Homo sapiens: one gene and its partners. The protein of the gene in region 1 purifies or fractionates together with the protein of each later gene. This does not show direct contact. Each region holds a gene or a part of one and is shown in the gene's direction. Other genes may lie near its edges.

Evidence for each region.
Region 2: the proteins of GEMIN5 (region 1) and SNRNP70 purify together in Homo sapiens (affinity purification with mass spectrometry; 5 studies listed by BioGRID and IntAct, with this or other methods). This does not show direct contact.
Region 3: the proteins of GEMIN5 (region 1) and DDX20 purify together in Homo sapiens (affinity purification with western blotting; 7 studies listed by BioGRID and IntAct, with this or other methods). This does not show direct contact.

What each region holds. Positions count from the first base shown.
Region 1 is NC_000005.10:154,928,148-154,935,304, reverse strand, and holds part of GEMIN5 (gem-associated protein 5), read left to right. Parts: intron 1-3,054; coding exon 3,055-3,206; intron 3,207-3,727; coding exon 3,728-3,847; intron 3,848-6,645; coding exon 6,646-6,778; intron 6,779-7,157. UniProt on the Homo sapiens protein: The SMN complex catalyzes the assembly of small nuclear ribonucleoproteins (snRNPs), the building blocks of the spliceosome, and thereby plays an important role in the splicing of cellular pre-mRNAs.
Region 2 is NC_000019.10:49,095,451-49,102,607, forward strand, and holds part of SNRNP70 (U1 small nuclear ribonucleoprotein 70 kDa), read left to right. Parts: intron 1-2,976; coding exon 2,977-3,041; intron 3,042-3,191; coding exon 3,192-3,254; intron 3,255-3,383; exon of another isoform or gene 3,384-3,396; coding exon of another isoform or gene 3,397-3,513; intron 3,514-5,939; coding exon 5,940-6,021; intron 6,022-6,708; exon of another isoform or gene 6,709-6,723; intron 6,724-7,157. UniProt on the Homo sapiens protein: Component of the spliceosomal U1 snRNP, which is essential for recognition of the pre-mRNA 5' splice-site and the subsequent assembly of the spliceosome. SNRNP70 binds to the loop I region of U1-snRNA.
Region 3 is NC_000001.11:111,750,969-111,758,900, forward strand, and holds the start of DDX20 (probable ATP-dependent RNA helicase DDX20), read left to right. Parts: upstream 1-4,932; 5' UTR 4,933-4,956; coding exon 4,957-5,257; intron 5,258-5,677; coding exon 5,678-5,772; intron 5,773-7,932.

The sequences.
Region 1 (7,157 bases):
GTTGAAGGAGAAATTCTGATTGGAGTGGATTTGAAAGACTGGGGGCTAAGGCAATAGAGATACACAAAGAGACAACAACTCTTTCACAAAGTTTGTTGTAAAAATGTGCATATACATGAAGCCAGAGGGGATAGATGGGGTCAAGGGAGTATTAAATGGAAAATACCAGGGACCTGTTTTTATGCTGATGAAAGTAAGGCTTGAAAAGAGGAAGAGCTTGTTGCAGGAGTAAACTATGATAAATGCAGGGGTATTGCTGAAAAGTCAAGAGGGGATTGGATTCAGATGACAAGAAGAAAGAACAGCTGGGAATATAGAAATAGGTGCAGGTAGATTTGTAGATGTGCTTGGAAGAAAAAGGTGTTCTATTCTGGTATTTCTGATTTTCTCATTGAGGCATAAGTCAGAGTGGTAGAGTCAAGTTCATCATGGGGTTGAAACTGGATATGCAAAGAAGGTATGAAAATGGTCAAAGAGAATAGGAAAACGAATGTACTAAGGAAAATTATAGGCCCAGTGTTCACTGTTGAGTGGCAAACAAAGAATCGTGGCCATAAATTTAAAGTAAACCCAAACTGTTTGAGAAAGGAGATGGTTGGATTCAGCCAGGTTTGGGGCTTTGTGGAGTAAGTACTCTTGAGGGAGAGGGAGAAGGAGACGGGGCGTACGGGTATTTTTAAAAGTTGATGATAAGGCTGGGCGCAGTGGCTCACACCTGTAATCCCAACACTTTGGGAGGCCGAGGCGGGTGGATCACCTGAGGTCAGGAGTTCAAGACCAGCCCGGCCAACATGGTGAAGCCCCATCTCTACTAAAAATAAAAAATCAGGCCAGGTGCAGTGGTGCACGCCTGTAATCCCAGCACTTTGAGAGGCCGAGGTGGGCAAATCACCTGTGGTTGGGAGTTCAAGACCAGCATGGAGAAACCCCGTCTCTATTAAAAACACAAAATTAGCCAGGCATGGTGGCGCATGCCTGTAATCCCAGCTACTAGGGAGGCTGAGGCAGGAGGATCACTTGAACCCAGGAGGTAGAGGTTGTGGTGAGCCAGGATTGAGCCATTGCACCCCAGCCTGGGCAACAAGAGCGAAACTCTGTCTCAAAAAAACAAACAAACAAAAATTAGCCAGACTTGGTGGCGCACACCTGTAAGCCCAGCTACTCAGGAGGGTGAGGCAGGAGAATCGCTTGAACCTGGGCAGTGGAGGTTGCAGTGAGATGAGATTGCACCACTGCACTCCAGCCTGAGCGACAGAGCAAGACTCTATCTCAAAAAAAAAAGTCAATGATAGTGATGGATCATGAAATCTGTGCTGCATTGGGTAGGGGGATGTATGGAAAGACAGGTGTGGGTGAGTGATAGTGAAAATGGAAGGGGACTGGATCGGCAGTCTCTTGAAGTGGGAGCAGTGTTGTAGTAGGGTTGATAGAGAGGATGAACAGAAAGGTGGTAGGCAGGAGTCAGGGGAGGATCTTCAGAATAGTATTATTCCCAGAAAGCTTGATTCAGATTTCTAAATAGCTTGATCTGTTGGTGATTAGGTTGCATAACTTGGCAGTTTTCAAAGTCCGGGTCTTCAAAGGTTGACATACTCTAGTGTTTCTTTTAAAAAAAAAAAATAAATAAAGCTGTGCTGGTGTTCTTCCCTGTCGAATGCTGTAATGTGTAGGAAGTGTGAATAGGTACAGCCACTTTGTATAATGCAGTTTTGTACTTTCTAATAAAAATGCATATATCTTAACATCCTGGCAGTTCCATTACTAGTCATCAAACCTGAAATTGTCTTAGATGTGTACATGAACATTAATAGCATTTTTTTGTTGTAAAAAAGTGGAAGCCCTTCAAAAGGAAAATGAATAAACTTTGAAATATTCACACAGTGCAGTACTAATACAATAGTGTAATGACTGGCCAGGAACTAGAGTTACGTGTATCAACATGGATGAATTACAAACAGAATGAGTGAAAAAAACAAGCTGCAGGAAAATAGATGATAGCATTTATGTGCAGTTTTAAAATATGCAAAATCTATATCTTATTTAGGAATATATACAAAGAAAGGCTAGGAATGATATAACACAATTCACAAATAGAGTTTGACCTCTGGGTAGAGGAAGAAAAGGAGAAGAGATCTGGCAAGGAGAGAGGTTTGATTGAAGTGGAATGTACAGAGGACTTCAGCTCTATTGGTAATTATTTTTCTTAGGCAGGGTAGTAGATTACTTTTTTTATGTATCTGAAGTCATTCATTTTTAAAAAGCTATTAGAATTTCTCAGTTTCTTTTGAATTCATAAAATGACAGCCTTGGAATATGCAGGTCTAGAGTGTAGAATTCTGCAACTTTTGTTAAGTTCACAGTTTAAAAAGTAGTATCACTTATAAAGAAAGAGATTATTTTCCAGTGCACTAGGACAAAATTATCTCTAGTTAGAAGAGTTGGCCGGGTGTGGTGGCTGATGCCTATAATCCCATCACTTTAGGAGGCCAACGCAGGTAGATTGCTTGAGCCCAGGAGTTTGAGACCAGCCATGAGCAACATGGTGAAACCTCATCTCTACAAAAAAATACAAAAATTAGCTGGGCATGGCATGTACCTTTAGTCCCAGCTACTCAGTCCCAGGCTGAGGTGGGAGGATTGCTTGAGCCTGGGAAGTCAAGGCTGCAGTAAGTGGTGATTGTGCCACTGCACTCCAGCCTGGGCAACAGAGAAGGAAAAAAGAAGAGTTGCTGCACCCTTGCAAAAACTATGAAAATTCCCTTAGAACAAAATCATGGTCCACTGTGAGTTTTGTACCAGGCAACATACATAGTATTACCTAGTGCCAAGAGTTTGATCATAGAGAGAAGGGTTTTAACAAAACCAGGAGGCATAAGGTGAGCACTTTAAAAAAAGGAAAAAGCAAAATTATTTTTTGTCCTCTTCCCTCCTCCGCCACCCCAAATGCACCTAACTTTAAGGAATGCGCCAATGGTAACTCCAAGCCAAAATGTTTACTAGAGACTCTGTTCTGTCTTCATTTTTTTAGTAATATTTCTAACTCTTGTTTTTTAGCTACAAGGATGGCATAGTGGTGATAATTGACATCAGTAAGAAAGGAGAAGTTATTCATAGGCTTCGAGGCCATGATGATGAAATCCACTCCATAGCCTGGTGTCCCCTGCCTGGTGAAGATTGTTTATCTATAAACCAAGAGGAAACTTCAGGTAGAGATGGTTTAAGGGAAAGTTAAGTCCACTTGAGACCTGAAGAACAGAACGGGTACAATTATATCATTTTTTATTTATTATTTATTTTTGGAGACGGAGTTTTGCTTTTGTTGCCTAGGCTGGAGCGTGATCTCGGCTCACCGCAACCTCCGCCTCCCGGGTTCAAGCGATTCTCCTGCCTCAGCCTCCCGAGTAGCCGGGATTACAGGCATGCGCCACCACGCCCAGCTAATTTTGTATTTTTAGTAGAGACAGGTTTCTCCATGTTGGTCAGGCTGGTCTTGAACTCCCGACCTCAGGTGATCCACCTGCCTCAGCCTCCCAAAATGCTGGGATTACAGGCGTGAGCCACTGCACCAGGCCGAATTATATCATTTTAATTATACCTAAAACTTCAAATTTTATAGTTCAGACCTATGAAAGAGATAGCTAAGTTTTGGAAACTCTTGCAAACTAATTTTTTTATATTAGTGCGTGTTTAATGTAAATTAAAAACAAAATTGCCACCTATCTCATAGAAGAAGCTGAAATTACCAACGGGAATGCTGTAGCACAAGCTCCAGTAACAAAAGGTTGCTACTTAGCCACTGGAAGCAAAGATCAAACCATTCGAATCTGGAGCTGTTCTAGAGGCCGAGGTAAGATTGATCTTTCTTTTGTGATGTAACCTATGTTGATCTGGTGGAAGTAGAGGGTTTTCTGTTCTTATTGTCCTGAGGGTGTGTCATCTATTTGAGAGCAGTTCTTCACTTTTTGGTCTAGAATTCTGCTTCCTCATTTGAGCCTGGCCTAGACTCTCTATTCTCTCAACATCTGGCCTTAGAGATTAGTATTTCCCATGCATTCCAGGAGAAGACAAGGATCTCTTGCTTTATAGAAGGGTCAGTGTTTGGCATGGAGAGCAGAATATTTGTAATAAAAACAGGAATATTAGAACATGATATGGCCTAAGCCAGGAGAATGGAAAATATCTTAAGAGTTAGAGCTTTTAATGCACAAATGCAGAATAAATTACATACACCCAGCATAGAATTATGTGTAAAAGCTCATTTTATCCAAATTATAGAGCCCCTCAATCATTTAGCTTTCCCAAATGTCTCTTTGAACAGAACTTTTATCTTTAAGTTTAAAAATTGAGAGAAACTCTAGGCATAATGAATATTTATAGTATATCATAGAATATAACCTTTATAGTAAAAATCTTGTTTTTCTCTTTCTAGCGGGCTTCTCTTCTTTCTTCATTTTATTTTATTTTTTTTGGCAGTTTTTTAAGCTGTGGTGGAAAATATAACATTTGCCATCTTTATCACTTTTAAGTGTACATTTAAGTGGTATGAAGTACACTCTAAAGTTGTGCAACTGTCACAGCCACCCATCTCCAGAATTCTACTCTCCATTTCCCCCTCCCCCAGGCCCTGGCAACCATCATTCTGCTTTCAGCTCTATGATTTTGACTACTCTGAGTATTTCCTTTGAGTGAAGTTATACATATGATATGTCTTTTTGTGATTGGCTTATTTCACTTAGCATATATCCCCGAGGTTCATTGATGTTGGTACCGTATGTCAGCATATCCTTCCTTTCTAAGGCTGAATAATATTCCATTGTGTGTATGTCCCACATTTTACTTACCCACTCATCCACTTGTTATAAATAAAATTTCGGTGTGGCAAAAGAAATAGCACTCAAATATAAAACTTTCTTTTTAATTCTCAGCAAGGCAATGTACTTCTATAGAAGGGTGCGCCCTTACAGATGGAGCAATGGTGAGCGCACACTTGGACAACGGAGGGGAGGGGTTCTTATCCCTGACGCATGTGGCCCCTGCTGCTGTGTCGTTCCCCTATCAGCTAGGGTTAGACCGCACAGGCTAAACTAATTCTGATTCGCTGATTTAAAGAGAGTGCCGGGGTAAGTGGTTTGATGGGAGAAAATGGTTATGGCAGGAAAAATGGTTATGGCAGAGCAGGAAATCAGAATGAGTCAGGGTGGAGCAGGTAATCGGAATGAGTCAGGATGGAGCAGGTAATCGAAAAAGGTTGCTTTTACGAGGAAGTTAAGTTTAAAAACAGAAGCCAAATAATTGAACATACTGACATATTGATTCTTTGAAGAGAAATTTAGAACTCATATCTCACACACTGATGGACATTTGGGTTGCTTCCATGTTTTACTATTCTAAATAATATGCTATGAGCATGGATGTACTTTCTACTTTATTTGAAACCATGATAGTTTTATCATATTTGCCCAAATGCATGTAAAGCAAGTAGCACAGCACTTGGAATGTCATCCAGGCTTCATCAGTGGTAGGTAACTAATAGTATAATTTGGGAAGACAGAACTTTTTTAAGGTTTACAGGCTACTTCTTGGCATACTGCAGCTAAAACTCCAAGTGGGAACATAAGGCTGAGGATCCCTCCAGGAGGGTAACCTCTAGACTTAGAGGTGTCTGGTAAAATGGCCTTCAATTGTGGTTGTGCAGCAGAATCAGCTGGAGAGTCTTTGGAAAAATGTAGGTTCTTGTACCCCACCTCAGATCTACTGAGTCCGAATCTCTAGGAGTTAGGCCCTGGCGTATGTATTTTTTAAAGTTCCACCTGTGGTTCCGATGCACAATACAGCTTAAAAAACGGTGATTAGAAGCATGTCGGGTGGAGGTACTCCCCACCCACAGCACGTTCACTGCCAAATTTTTCTTTGTTGGATTTCTTGCCGACTAGAAATAGTAATCCCAACCTCTGTCCTTTTCACTTTGGAGTTATGTCACTGCAATACTTTTGGGTACACAACTCAGCTGTGTTACTAGCTGGGTTCTCAGTTTTACTTGGGAACTCATTTTCCCAGACGAAAAAATACTCTTTTTCTTTTGAGGCAGAGTCTCTCTCTGTCGCCCAGGCTGGAGTGCAGTGGCACGATCTCAGCTCACTGCAAGCTCCACCTCCTGGGTTCATGCCATTCTCCTGCCTCAGCCTCCCGAGTAGCTGGGACTACAGGTGCCTGCCACCACGCCCGGCTAATTTTTTTGTATTTTTAGTAGAGACAGGGTTTCACCATGTTAGCCAGGATGGTCTCGATCTCCTGACCTCGTGATCCTCCCGCCTCGGCCTCTCAAAGTGCTGGGATTACAGGCATGAGCCACCGCGCCCGGCCAAAAAAAAAAAATACTCTTAATACGTTGAGGTTGTCAAGATAGCCTGTCGAAGCTTGTTTGACCTAAATGTAGCTAGACTAGTATTAACCAGTATTTATAGTGATTAAAATTATAACCATAATAATGGTTAAAATTGTAACCATTGGAAAATGAGATCTGAATTCTAAGTAGCCAAACTAACAAGCTTTTACAGCGCAGACTGTGTGTTATGAACCACCGGTGACTTCATGCATGTAGTTTCACTGTCTTGAGTGCCCACTGGCCTTCTTTTTAATCTGCAGGGGTGATGATTTTGAAATTGCCCTTTCTGAAGAGAAGAGGAGGGGGTATAGACCCAACTGTTAAAGAGCGCCTTTGGTTGACACTCCATTGGCCCAGCAATCAACCAACACAGCTGGTATCTAGCTGTTTTGGGTAAGTCTTTTTTGGTCATGCTTTCTCAGATATATTTTGTTTTTCTATTTGGCCTCAAGTCCTCCTAGGATGGAGAAAGTAATGGCCAAGGCTTGTATTATGATGGGCCATTTGAAATGGAAAAATTATGAGACTAATGCCTGTGCTATCTACTAACAGAGCTGTAAAAAGATCACATAAGTATAGTCCGGCAGTTAGGAATATGGACTCTGAAGTCAGAACTAAATTTCAGAATCACTTTGTCACTTACTGCCTTGTATTCCTGAGCAAGACCCTTTACTTTTCTGAGCTTCAGTCACTTCAAGTGTAGAAAGGGGAGATGGTTATAATATTTTCTCTTAGGTTGGATGGCTATGCCCATTCAGTAAACAAAGTTCAT
Region 2 (7,157 bases), on another chromosome or scaffold:
CTATTCTCTGTCGTCATCTGATGTGATCATAGGATCTCCTTATTTACCTCTTTCATTAGCATATGAACCCCATGAGGGTAGACACCTTTTTTTTTTTTTTTTTGGAGACAGTCTCACTCTGTTGCACAGGATAGACTGTAGTGGCACGATCTCGGTTTACTGCAACCTTCATCGCCTCCCTGGTTCAAGCGATTCTCTTGTCTTAGTCTCCTGAGTAGCTGGACCACACCCAGCTAATTTTTTGTGTATTTTTAGTAGGGATGAGGTTTCGCTGTGTTGATCAGGCTGGTCTTCTTGAACTCTTGGTCACAAGTGATCCGCCTGCCTTGGCCTCCCAAAGTGCTGGCATTACAGCTGTGAGCCACTGCGCCCAGCACCTTTTTTTGTCTTGTTTACTGCGAAATCCCCAACAACTATAGCATTTCCAGGCACATAGTAGATGCTTAAGAATTACTTACTTACAAGAGCACAAACATCGGCGAATAAAAAGAATTACCTATTGAATGAATGAGAGTTAGCTGGTGCAAAAAAAAAAAAAAAAAAAGCCAGTGCAGATTGAGAGACCTGGCCATAGAAAATTACAACGCTCAGGGATAAGGTATGGCAAGGAACGTTTTTTGTTTTTTGTTTTTTTTTTCGCTTTATTGCCGAGGCTGGAGTTCAGTGGTATGATCTCGGCTCACTGCAATCTCCACCTCCCAGATTCAAGCAATTCTCCTGCGTCAGCCTCCCGAGTAGCTGGGACTATAGGCGCACACCACCATGCCCTGGTAATTTTGTATTTTTAGTAGAGACGGGGTTTCGCCATGTTTGCCAGGCTGGTCTCAAACACCTGACCTCAGGTGATCCGTCCGCCTTAGCCTCCCAAATTGCTGGGATTACAGGTGTGAGCCACTGTGCCCAGCCTGGCAAGGAACTTGAGGAGTGGGTGGAGAGAACGCTGAGATGGAGTTGTTTTCAGACGTTTCCATTTGTCCCAGATAGCGATTCCCTTAAATTGTGGCTTAGGCTTCTGTTTTCTAAAATATTCTTAGGCCAGGTGCGGTGGCTCACGCCTGTAATGCCAGCACTTTGGGAGGCCGAGGCAGGCAGATCACCTGAGGTCAGGAGTTCGAAACCAGCCTGGCCAACATAGTGAAACCCCGTCTCTACTAAAAATACAAAAGATTAGCTGGGTGTGGTGGTGTGTGTTTGTAATCCCAGCTACTTGGGAGGCTGAGGCAGGAGAATCGCTTGAACCCGGGAGGCGGAGGTTGCAGTAAGCCGAGATCTCGCCATCCATTGCACTGACCTTGGGCAACAAGAGTGACACTCCATCTCAAAAAAAGTACATTCCTTAAAGTCATCTTGACCTTAGTTTATACTTGTAGTTAAATTCTCTCATAAGAAACAAATCTGGCGGGACGCGGTGGTTCATGCCTGTAATCCCAGCACTTTGGGAGGCCGAGGAGGGCGGATCACCTGAGGTCAGGAGTTCGAGACCAGCCTGGCCAACATGGCGAAACCCCATCTCTACTAACAATACAAAAATTAGCTGGATGTGGTGGTGCACGCCTGTAATCCCAGCTGCTTGAGAAGCTGAGGCAGGAGAATTGCTTGAACCTCGGAGGCAGAGGTTGCAGTGAGACGAGATTGCGCCATTGCACTTTAAGCCTGGGCAACAGAGCAAGACTCTGTTTAAAAAAAAAAAAAATCTGAGACTTTATTTCTCTAGCTTCTGGCAACACCCACACTGTCTTCCTGAAAAGGTAGCACCCGAGGGTTCGGGGAAGGAGCCTGGTAGTTCAAGTGCCCGGGGTGAGAGGTGAAGTCTGCCTTGGCCCTTCGCCACTTTAACACCTCCCTTTTTCTGTGTCTCGAGTTTGTTCTGTTTTACTTCCATTTGCAAAATAGTAATAAATAAATATCAGTGTCCAGCACTGTGTCTGGGCCATAGTACGTGTTCAGTAAATTATATGTCTAATGTTCCATTATTGGAACGCTAAGCATGTGGGAGTTATTTATATCCTACTGCTCGGGTCATCACCAGGGTCTGATTTTTCACACGTGTCTGCAATTCAAAAAATTGCAACCTCTGGCATAAATGGGTTAATGTTATTCCTTTTCTCATGCTCTCCCAGAATGTGACAGGGCTTCCGAGGGAAACACTATACCATGGAAGAACCGGCAGAGTGTCCTTAAGGCCCCGGCAGGAGTCAGGGTCATTATGTGCTGGAGCCACCATATTTGGTGAAAAGGACTTATTCCCAGGCCTGACCCAGCAGGATCACCTATGAAATTGGTTTCTTAGGAGATTCCTGGCTCTTTTCTTTGGAGATTGTTATTCCTTAGTAGCCAGGTAGAACAGTTTGCCTCACAGTAGTGAGGCTGGAGTGAGAATCTGATCTGACGCTAGTCAGTTCCTGGGTTCCTTTTTAGAGACACAGGGCACAGACAGGAAAGCAGAGCTTACTTAGTGTTTGCTTTCCTGGCTCTCATTCTTAGCCTTGGGGCAGCTTGGTCTCAGGTTTTCCTGTGGGCTGTAGTTGCAGTCTGTGTCCAGTAGGTGGCAGTGTGGCCCTGCCTACAGGAGGGAGCTCAGAACCTGGGGGCATCAGCTGCATCTCCAGGGAGGCCCAGTTGGGCTATTACTGTTTGGATCACCTTGCATCTGGGAGCGATAGGGCCCTTAGGGTTTATGTAGGTCTGAAATGGCAGTTGGGCCTGCCCACATCCTGTCAGCTTGAAGTCAGCCTTACCTCCTCTCCTCAGCAGCCTGGATTATCTCTCAGCCACTCTGATAAAGCCCACTGTGCCTCAGAGAAACAGGTTCAGAGAGGGGCGTCCCTGAGGTTGCCAGGTCACCACCCATGTTCCTCCAGTTAGGGGCCTCTCCCAATGCCACCGTTTTCTTCTTGGCCTCTGCCCATCGTATTTGTTTTGCTACCTGAGACCATGGACACCTTCAACTTATAAAATTCCTTTCTTCCTGCACAGGGGACCCTCACAATGATCCCAATGCTCAGGGGGATGCCTTCAAGACTCTCTTCGTGGCGAGAGTGGTAAGTCCCCAGCTCCTAGCTCCTGGAACCCCACGCTGCTGAGAGCCTGGGTCTGGCACAAAGGTCAAATAGGCTAGGTACAGGGGAATGTTCCAGGGGCTGTGGGACAGCTCTGTTCTCCCATTTAACGTCATATCCATCTCCTTGTAGAATTATGACACAACAGAATCCAAGCTCCGGAGAGAGTTTGAGGTGTACGGACCTATCAAAAGAGTAAGTGGAGTGGGTCAGGGTGTTTGAATTGGGGGTGCATGGAGGAGGGGCTGTATCCTGAGAGGGAGGGAGAGAGGTCCCAGCCCTGAGCATGGCTCACACCATTTCAGGGCCTGGATTTATGCATCCTGACTGTATCTCCATGCAGCAGACCTTGGGCAGCAGAAGTAAAATGAGAAGTAATGACTGCTGGTGGTTGGTTGAGAGCAGGGGTTGGCAAACTACAGACTTAAAGTTTTCCTGCTGCTCAGCCAGGCAGGTCTGTTTGTTTACACATTGTCTTTGGCTGCTACTGTTGTAAGGCAGGGTTGGATTGTTGCAACAGTATACGGCCGTCCAAGCTGGAAATATCTACTCTCTGGGTCTTGGCAGAATACCTATGCTGAGTCCCGTTTTAGAGGAAGGCTTTGTTTTACCAATCTTCTTTTAAGTCACTGAAGTGCTCTGTGTCTGATTTCCTTTATCTAACATGGGAGACGCATGCCTTCACTGGGCAGTAGTGAGGGCTTGAGGCCATCCTACACACAAACTGATGTTAGCCATGTCTCTTCTCCCTGCTCTGTTTCTGATACGTCTTTTAAAAATATTTATACATGTCAGGCCGGGTGCAATGGCTCACACCTGTAATCTCAGCTCTTAAGGAGGCAGAGGCGGGAGGATAGCTTAAACCCAGGAGTTCGAGACCTGCCTGGGCAATATAGCAAGACCCCGTTCTCCACACAAAGGAAAAAAAAAGTATTGTTGGGCCAGGCACGGTGGCTCACGCCTGTAATCCCAGCACTTTGGGAGGCCGAGGTGGGCGGATAACCTGAGGTCAGGAGTTCGAGACCAGTCTGACCAACATGGTGAAACCTGGTCTGTACAAAAAAAAAAAAAATACAAAAATTAGCTGGGCATGATAGCGGGCGCCCGTAATCCCAGCTACTGAGGAGGCTGAGGCAGGAGAATTGCTTGAACCCAGGAGGCGGAGGTTGCAGTGAGCCGAGATCACACCACTGTACTCCAGCCTGGGCAACAGAGTGGGACTCCATCTTAAAAAAAAAAAAAAGTATTGTAGGCTGGGCGTGGTAGCTCACGCCTGTAATCCCACATGTTGGGAGGGCGAGGCAGGCAGATCACCTGAGGTCAGGAGGCAAGACCAGCCTGGCCAACATGGCGAAACCCCGTCTCTACAAAAATACAAAAGATTAGCCGAGTGTGGTGTCTCGTGCCTGTGTGTGTGTGTGTATGTGCATGTGTATATATGTGTACACACACACACACACGTTGTTCTGCCTTGCACAGCCCAGTGACAACCTTGGCCCCACCCTTGTCCCTCTGATCCATTCAAGTCAGGAATCTTGGTTGTGTTTTGGAGGCTGTGGGGTCCCAGGTTCATCCATGATACAGGTTGGTCGCCAACTGGTAGTGATGTGAATGGCGAACTAGCCATCCTTTAGGGACCAGCTCAAATGCTGTTACCTCCCAGAAATCTTCCCTGGTTCATTCTGGCCACCTCTGTCTCAACAGCCCTGCCTTGCCCGTTGTTCTCCCTGACATGGTCCCCAAGGGGTCTTTCTGACATCCAGAGCTGACCCCATCTCTGCTGACAGCATCCCATGGGTCCCTAGCATGTTAGGACAGGTCCAGCTGCCACCATCTGGCCTTCCAGGGCTCTTCCCCAAGCTGTGTGGCCTCATGGACCTCCACCCCACCCCATCTCCTCCCTTCTCTTGCTGCCATCCTCGGGATGGGACGCATCCCTCATCGTGCCACGTTCTCTCAAGCCTCCCTGGCTGTGCACGTGTCCTTTCTTTTTCCCTTAGAACTTCCCTGTCCTTGGCCAGGCACAGTGGCTCACGCCCGTAATCCCAGCACTTTGGGAGGCCGAGAAGGGCAGATCATGAGGTCAGGATTTCAAGACCAGCCTGGCCAACATGGTGAAACCCCATCTCTACTAAAGATACAAAAAATTACCCAGGTGTGGTGGCGCACGCCTGTAATCCCAGCTACTTGGGAGGCTGAGGCAGGAGAATCGCTTGAACCCGGGAGGTGCAGGTTGCAGTGAGCTGAGATTGAGCCATTGCACTCTAGCCTGGGCAACAGAGCAAGACTCTGTCTCCAAAAAAAAAAAAAAAAAAAAGAATTCCCGTCCCATTGGCATTCACAACTCCCTCCTGTTTCCCTAATTCCATTTGTGTCCTCCTGACTCCACGTAGACCACCCACATTGGCCCTTCCTTGCTCAACACCCTTCCCAGCTCCTCAGCGACCACACTTCTCGGCCTGGCATTGGGGCGCTTGATGACCCCGGGCCTGCCCACCTTTGTGGCTTCATCTCCTGGGACTCTCTGTCATCAGTACATGAGCCAGCCCTGCCGAAGCGCATCCCCAGCCTCCTGCCCTCCTGCCCCCGGGCCCTTGGACCTCTGGAGTTACTGCTATTCCACCTGACAGGCTGACACCTCACTGTCTTCCTTCATCTCTCTTCTTTCTTTAGGTCTTAGCTTAAGTGTCATTTTCTCCAGGAAGCCGCCTCTGTGTCCTCTGCTCCTGCCATTAGAACATAAGTCACTCAGGGCTCTTGAAGGACAGAGAGGGTCTGAGGCCTCATCCGGCCCAGGGCCTGGTGTGCAGGCTGTTGTGGGGTTGGTGGGGCGGAGCCGCCCTGTGGCAGGACTCACCCCTGTCCCCATGTGCCCCACAGATACACATGGTCTACAGTAAGCGGTCAGGAAAGCCCCGTGGCTATGCCTTCATCGAGTACGAACACGAGCGAGACATGCACTGTGAGTACCTCCCGCCGAGCCCTGCCCTCTGACCTGCTCTCACTTCTCTGCTGCCCCAGCCCCTCCCAGTCTGTCCCCTCCCCCACCCTGCCACACCTGACATTAGCGATGTCTCTTCTCCTCCTCCCTCTGTTTCTGATGTATCTTTTTTTTTTTTATATACGTGTTTTTTAAAAAACAAAAACCAAATCCCCCACAACGTGTGTGTGTGTGTGAACCTGGGGAGGTAAGTGTCACACGTTGAACCTCAGGGGCAAAGAGGGAACTGGGTGGGGGGCTGGGGCCAGCTGGAGGTGGGGGGAGGGGTCGGATTTTGGGGGAACCTCCCCCATTCCCCCCACTGAAGTTGGGGGTGGCCAGGTTGCAATGAGGACTGGCCTTTGAACCTGCCCTCTCTTCCCCCCCCAGTAGAACTGGGGCTGGGCCACCCGACCCTCCGCTTCCCCAACCCTGGCCCCCCACCCTGTTCCTCAGCGGGCAGTGGGGTGATAGGCATGTTGAGCGCCTGCCCCTACAGTTCCAAAGCCCCCTTTGAGGCTGCCGCGGCGTCCACATGGGCAGGGATGGGTGGGGGAGGGTGGGCAGGGCTGCGGCGTGTCCAGGGGCCGCCGTATTAATTGACTGTTCTTATTGTCACTGCAGCCACCACGCAGCTGGCTTGCAGCTGATGCTTACGCTCCCCTTACAACACCTCAGTGTATGGTTGGTATAAGGGTTTGTATCATGGGTAAGATCACTCAGCACCGCACACCAGCCCAGCTTAGCCAGGCAGCTCAGGAGCAGCGAGGCGCCCCTCCTCCCACCCCAGTCGCCCCCGTAGCCTCCCCGCACCCATGGCCCTTTCCTTGTTTGGGTGCCCTTTGTCCCTCCTGCCCCGATCCGTATGCTCTCTGAGAATCTTGCTGATCCCAGGAGGGGAAGGATGAACCTGGTGGGAAAGGCGGCGGCCTCTCCGCTTGGGTTCCACCCAGCCTCTGATGACCCGGCTTCGTGATGTCAGCGGCGAGGTGGCAGGAACACCGAGGGCAGGGCTCCAGGCCAGGGCTCCACTGGAGCCCTTCAGCCTTCCCTCCCTGCCCCCGTGCTTTCTATGGGGCTGCTACTGTGCTGGCCCTGGAGAGTCTTTTTGGCTGCTA
Region 3 (7,932 bases), on another chromosome or scaffold:
CGCCTCTACACAAACTGTTCTCTGTGCCTAGAATATCTTTCTGAGACTTGTCTGCCTGGTGAGCTCTCTTTCCACTCCCACTGCCTGATGAACGCCTTATTCAGGATAAGCTCAGGGTATCAGCCCCCACTGCTTCACAGGACTTGAGCTTTGTCTCCTGGTGCTGCTGTCTTGGCAGAAGTGCTGGACTCCAGGAATTAGGTAAACAATGATCTTGTATGTGCAGTTGTTCTCTCATACTTCCATACATACTTGAAGCAACTTTGATTTGGGGTGTGGAGGAGAAGGACATAGAGAAGAAAGCTATTGCTCTTTGAATACCAAAAGCTGTTTTCCTCAGTTTCTCAGAAGTTCTCACTCTCTCCCACGACAGCCACACTTTGAACAACTAAGGCCCTGAAAAAATGTCAGTACTGCATATGATTTTACACCAGCTTGTGCTACTTGCATATTTCATGCTTGATCATTTCCCCAGCTGGGCTGTCAACTCTTTTAGGACAGAGGATAGAAAGAGCCTAGACTTTGCTGTCAAATAGATCTGAGTTCCAATCCCAATTATGAGCTCTGTGACTTTGAGCAGATTACTAATCTTCTTCTGAGGAGTTACTTGAGGGCAGCATCTCCTTCGGCATCTGACATGTAGAAGGCTTTTAGGATAAAGTCCAGACACCAACCTGGCCTACACTTCACTCTCCTGCTCATCAAAGCTTACTGTCCCATTTGCATTCTAAGCTCTTTTAGAATGTGCTATGGTGGTCCTCACCTCCAGACCTCCGTTTTCCCCTCCTCTGTCACAAGGCCAACTTTGATTCATTTTTCAGACTTACTGTAGCTCTCACTAATGCTAGGAAGATGTGGCAGAGACTGTTAGTTGCCTCCAATGTCCTTTCCCCCTTCCTCTATAGTAATGGACCTCCTCTCAAATCAGTGTACAGCTGGGCACGTGATTGTCCAGAAAAATGACATTTCCCAGATTTTTTTTTTTTTTTTGCAAGAAGGTATAACTTTATGGCTAAGTTCTTTCCAAGAAATGCCAGATAGTGTGGCAGCTTTTGAGAACATTTCTTAAAAGGACTGCTGGCATGATGACCATTACCATTTCTACTTTCTATTTTGAGTCTTCCTCCTTCCTGCTGGCTGCAATGCAAACGTGATGACTGGAACTACAGCAACTGTTTGGGGACCAAGGCAGAAGCCTGGGTGATTGGGATCTTTGTGGATCAGGGCTGTTTATCAGTCCTGCTTCCAGAATTCTCTACAAGGGCAAAATGAACTTCTATCTTGGGGAGGTAAGCTCCTATTTTGGGGCCTTACTTTCAATCAAACCTAATCTTGATGGCTAAGTCTTTCTTGGCTCCCCACATCTGGTTACCTCCTTGACTTCAGTAGCACCCTGCACTTTATACAGGAAATGAGGATACCTGTTTGTGTGCATCTGTCTCCCCAAGTGCAGAGGCTCTGTTTACTTTGTTCCATTTTTGTATCTCTAGCACTTGGCTGGTTTATACTAGGTGTTCAGAAAATTTTTGTTGAATGATTAGAGATGTTTTGTAGATTGAATGCAAATAATAATATTGCCTACCTTGTGTTGCTTTGAGGGTCAAATGAGAAAAAGTGGCTTTAAAATCTTAAGTTTTCTTCCCTTCTTTCCACATTCCCCCACCGATCCTCACACCCAGGGTGGGCCACCTTACAGTATGCCTTCCTTTATACTGTTTTCTTTTTCTTTTTTTTTTTTCTTTTGAGACGGAGTCTCGCTCTGTTGCCCAGGCTAGAGTGCAGTGGTGTGATCTCGGCTCACTGCAAGCTCTGCTTCCCGGGTTCACGCCATTCTCCTACCTCAGCCTACCGAGTAGCTGGGACTACAGGTGCCCACCACCACGCCCGGCTAACTTTTTGTATTTTTTTTCTAGTAGAGACAGGGTTTCACCATGTTAGCCAGGATGGTCTTGATCTCCTGACCTTGTGATCCGCCCACCTCGGCCTCCCAAAGTGCTGGGATCACAGGCGTGAGCCACCGCGCCTGGCCTGTTTTCTTTTCCTCTGGGTTCAGAAGCCTCCAGTGCAAAATGATTGGATGAGATCATTTGAATCTTAACACCCATTCTGAGTCTAAGTGTCACTCTCACCTTTTCAGTTCATAGGAATCTCTCCCTCCTCTAGCTCCCTGGAAAGGCTCTCCAGGTAGATGGAACAGCAAATACAAAGGTATTGAGGTGTTACAAGTCATGGAGAATTAAGCATCTGGGCTAGTTGGGTCTGGTTGGAGGAGGTAGATGGGCTGCTCTGCCAGAGAAGAGACAGGGATCCCACTGTTATTTATCCCGGGGGAGGCTGGGAGACAGACACAATCAAGCCCATTTCTGTATGTGTTATGCTCACACCTTACCTAGTTATTAAATGATTTCTTGCTTTTGTGCAAGAGATCTTTATAGCACTAAAAATTATGGTCAACAACACTGTTATAACTTTTGACTAGTGAGAAAAAAAATTTGTGTTATTCACCATGGTTCCCAATAACATTACTGCAATATTTGTGTCTGTAAAACATCAAAAACAACAAATGCAGTAACAGAATGCCTATAAAACTATAAATGTTTTCTGGAAATGTAGTCTTTTTGCTTTTCTTGGGATAATCCTGTGGTTCTTCAGCAGTGATTGGTGTGAGTTCTACAGAACCGCTGCTATGTGCATGGAGACCCAGAAGAGATTTTTGAGCAAGAAGGTGTCAGCCATTCAATGTTTATTGGGTCTACCAGGTGCTTGGTGCTGGCCTGGAGGGCCTAGGATGACAAAATTACTGTCCTTGAGAAGCTCACAGTTTATTTAATGTGAGGCACATACAAGTAACCAAGCAAATACAACATAAGAGCCAGACTGGAATTATTTATAGTGTGATGTGGGACCCTGGGGTGGGGAATAAAAAAGGGTATCAAAAGGAGCAGGATCAAAAGGAGCAGGATCTGGAGCTGGACCCAAACAGCTTAAGATATCCACTTAAGAAAGATCACTCCAGCACCTGTGGGGTACATGGCTGGGATAGAGAAGAAACTCTGGCCAGAGAAACCATTCAGGAGGTTTTTGCGAGTTAGGATGATAAAGGGATCTAAAATATAGGGCAGATTCTACGGAGACTGAAGAAGAATGGGTGAAATATTTGGAGGCAAAATTACTTGTGCTTGGTAAATTGTTAGAAAGTGGCAAAGGAGTCAAGAATAATTCCCAGGTTTGTGGTCTGGGGATTAGGCAGATAAAAGAGGTGAGGGCACTAAGAGGAAGGCTGGGACCTTTAGTGCCATCTCCACCATCAGTCTCCATTCCTTCAAACGGATAGTTGACATTTTCTCAATGTTTTGTACATTTCCAGGCAAAATAAACCTTCAGGACCACCTTCCAATGGGATTACCATGTCAAAGCCCCTCCTATATCATATGGAATCTAGACCATCACTGTGTGTGTGTCAAGGGGGTAGGGACAATGACCAGCATTATAATCTATGGACAAAGTTGGGCTTGGTTGCAGAATATATTTAAGTTTGGTATTCTTTGTATTTTTAAAAATTTGTTTACTTTTTAAGAATTTGAGACAGGGTTTCTGCATGTTGCCCAGGCTGGCAACTCCTGGCCTCAAGCAATCCTCCCGCCTCAGCCTCCCAAGAAGCTGGAATCACAGGTGCGAGCCACCCCACACAACTAAATTTGGAATTATGAATATGGCTGAGGTCCAGAAATATTTAAATTTGGCATGATGACTAAGAGTTTGTTATAGGAGCTCAATCATTTGATAAATATTGAACATTTCCTATGTGTCAGATTGTTTTTCCCACTAGGGATGCAGAGGAGAACAAGACAGAATAGGTTCTTGTCCTCATAGAGTGTGGGAGACAGGCAGAAGACATATAATTTCAGGTAGGTATAAGTATCATAAAGAAAAAATAAAGCAAAACAAGAGAGTGCTGGGAAAGGCCAGGGAGCAGAGAGGATGACAGAGCTGTCTTAGGGTGTTCAAGACCTCTTTGAAAAGCTGATATTTGAGCAGAAGACCACAGCAAGGAAAAGTGGCAGAGACTGCTAGCTGCCTACGCATGAAATGATGGGGGAAGGAGCAATACAGAAGGCATGTAACATTTGAGAGTCTATTAGGCATCCCAAGGGAGGTGCTGCGGAGGCGGATGCATGGAGGCGGATGCGGAGGCGGATGCATGGAGGCGGATGCATGGAGGCAGATGGATGCACACGTCTAGAGTTTAAAAGGAGATCTGAGGCGGAGATACGAACTTGGGAGCTGTTAGTCCAGTTCCAGGTTCCAATTCAACGTACTTTTATCAGAGCTCACTGTGCGCCAGGGACTTGCTAGGAGATAAATGGGGTTTATCTCACCGGAGATAAATGTGGTTGCACAGCAGATGGACACACCAGCCAATGTGGTAAATAAACCCTTGGGTCCAGCTACGTTCTGCGCGCTCTCTGCCAGCACAGAGGAGCAGCGAGTCAGGGTACGGAGCGGGTAGCGTTGGGGAAGAGGTGGCCGCGAAGCGAGACAGGCCAGCGGAACGGAAAACGGAAGCACGAGACGGGGGCGTGACGCACCGGGCGCATCACAAAGAACGGCGAGAGGGCGGTGGCGCCGGGGGCACGGCTGGGCGGCTCCGCCCAGAAGAGGGCCGAGAGGCGGGGCGGTGCCCCCACCGCAGGCCCGCGGCGCCCTCTGCAGGCCACAGGCAGCGACTCACCAGTTGCCTCATCTTTCCTCTCCTCCCTCTTGGGGCTTTCCTCAGGCCACATTTTTTGTGTGTCTGGGCAGTCTCTCAGCCTCCGACTCCCGTCCCTTTCTTCCACTTCCAGGCCGGGCGTGTTAGTGTCTTCGCGGGAAAACTGCCAATAAAGTTTTTCTTCTTCTCGCTCCCAAGATCCCCGCCTCCCCTTAAGCACCGCGAGATCTGACGGCGCGGCTACCATGGCGGCGGCATTTGAAGCCTCGGGAGCCTTAGCAGCAGTGGCGACTGCTATGCCGGCTGAGCATGTGGCCGTGCAGGTCCCGGCCCCAGAGCCAACACCCGGGCCTGTGAGGATCCTGCGGACCGCTCAGGATCTCAGCAGCCCGCGGACCCGCACGGGGGATGTGCTGTTGGCGGAGCCGGCCGACTTCGAGTCACTGCTGCTTTCGCGGCCGGTGCTGGAGGGGCTGCGGGCGGCCGGCTTCGAGAGGCCCTCGCCGGTGCAGCTCAAGGCCATCCCGTTGGGGCGCTGCGGGCTCGGTGAGAGCGGGGGCCCGGGATAGGTCGGGGGGTGGGGTGGGAGAAGGGGGACCGACGGGCGGCGGCGGCCAGGCCCGCGCCGCAGCTCAGGAAGAGCCCTCGGTCGGCCCCCGGAGCAGGGCCCTGCCGGGGGCTAGGCGCTACGCTCAGTTAACTTATTTGTAAAACTAACGTGCACTATTGAACTTGAGGATAGTTAAGACCTTTTTTTAAGCACTGACAAATGGTTCTAAGTTTGAGAAGATAAACGGTAAACGTTCAGGGACTAGGCGTGTTCTCATACGTTTTTGAGAATCAACTAAAAATGAAGGTGCCAACTAGGGGAATCTCAGGAGACCCTTCTAGTTCTCTGATTCCATGTTAGCCCCTAAGTTGCTTCAGTGAGTACTGGCTAGTGATAATTGTTTTTTTCCTTCGCAGATTTAATTGTTCAAGCTAAATCTGGCACCGGGAAAACCTGTGTGTTCTCCACCATAGCTTTGGACTCTCTTGTTCTTGAAAACTTAAGTACCCAGGTGAGTTAGCTGAGAGGACCAGAGGAGGATGTGTTTTGTGGACTTTACCACAGGTCAGATGAAATACCAGTAGCTCCTCAGAGCTGGAAGTGAATTTGATGAATGATTGAGTTAAGTGGTGGTGGTGGCGAAATTTGGAATTTTCTATGCGTACCTTATTTAAATAGAATAAAGCTACCATATATGTCAATTTTGTCACTACTTGGTAATACAGACAGGGATTCTTCTTTTACTTACTGACTAGATTAATGTGAGACTTAACATTTGACTTGATTCATGGTAATGTAGTGCTCTGGCTATTGTTGGTAACTGCAGAGTTTGTTTTTTTTTTTTGAGACGGTGTCGCTTTGTCACCTAGGCTGGAGTGCAGTGGCGGATCATTGCTCACTGCAACCTTGAACTTCTGGGCTCCAGTGATCCTCCCACCCATCTTCCTAAGTATTTGGGACTACAGGTGTGTGCCACCACACCTGGCTAGTTCTTGTATTTTTTGTAGAGATGGGGTCTCCAGTGTTGCACAGACCAGCCTTGAACTCCTGGGTTCAAGCAATCCTCCCACCTTTGCCTCCCAAAGTACTGGGATTACAGGCATGAGCCACCACAGCCGGTATGCAGGTGGTTCTTAAAGCTCTGTAAATGTATCATATTGATCTCCCATCTTCCAGGTTGTCTTAGAGTGTTTCTAAGATTGCCTTACCCAAATTAGCAGGAAATTTGAGTTTGGGGATCATTTCTCCAACAAAGGTTTGTTGAGTCCGTATTACGTATAAACAGTGTGCCAGGCATTGGGGATTCAAAGATGAATTAGATGTGATTCTCATAGCCTTACTTGGTAGTTTAGTTGTTATGGCAGACTGTATTTCAAGTTCTCAGGCATTGGTATATCTGATGATGAATCTTCAACAGTGGTTTTTAACCCAGATATCCATGTTCATCACCTGGGAAGCTTTTTGAGTCCATCTTATGTCTACCAAATCCTAGGTGATGTTGCACATTGGAAATCCTCCTACTTCCCAAGAACCTGAGTTAGTCTAATTGTAGACTAAGATGTATTTGAGATTTTGGCTTCTGACAATTTGGCAGCAGATAAAATGCTGAAATCCTGGAAAAGTTTCATCAACTCATTTTTTTTTGAGACCGAGTCTCACTCTGTTGCCCAGGCTGGAGTCAGTGGCACAATCTTGGCTCACTGCAACCTCTGCCTCCCAGGTTCAAGTGATTCTCCTGCCTCAGCCTCCCGAGTAGCTGGGATTACAAGTGTGCACACCACACGCCCGGCTAATTTTTTTGTATTTTTAGTAGAGACGGTGTTTCGCCATGTCGGCCAGGCTGGTCTCAAACTCCTGACCTCAGGTAATCCACCTGCCTCAGCCTCCCAACATGCTGGGATCACAAGTGTGAGCCACCATGCCCGGCAAATTCATATTTTTAATTTCAGATCTTTGGATTATGAAAATTACATTATTCTCTGTGTGTGTATCAAAGTAATACATATTCATTTTTAGAAATAGGGAAAATTCAGAAAAATTAGGACGTACCAGAAAACAAAATCTGTAATCTTACTACCTAGAGAGAAACTGCTATTAACAGTTTTGGCATGTTTTCTCCTAGTCCTTTTTTTTTTTTTTTTTTTAAATCAATTTTTTTTTCTTGTAGTTAAGAGCACAAAGTTTTGTTTTCTCCTCCTCCAGTAGTTACATTGCAAAGTTTTTACCATGACTCTCAAGGTCTTTTGTGATCTAGTCCCTGGAGGTAGATCTCTGACCTCCTTTACTTTCCCCTGAATTCTGTCATGTGGGCCTTCTTTTTCTTCCTCAAATACACCAAGAACACTGCCATCTTATGGCCTTTCCATTTGCTGTTTCCTCTTGGTGAAAACGCTTCCCCAGGGGTCATATAGCCAGCTCTACTCTATGCCATTCACGTAGGTCTCTGCTCAAAGTACCTCCTTTGAGGAGGTTTCATGATCACCTCATTTAAAATGACTCCTTTTTTCCTTGTTTGATTTTTTTATGATACTTTTTATTACCTGTCATTACTTATTTTTGTTTACTGTATATATTCTTATCCAAGAATGAAAGTACCATGAGGGCAAAGACTTTGTACTGTTAACTGTTGATTCCCCGGCAACTAGTATGTTGCCTAGCACAGAGTAGGTTC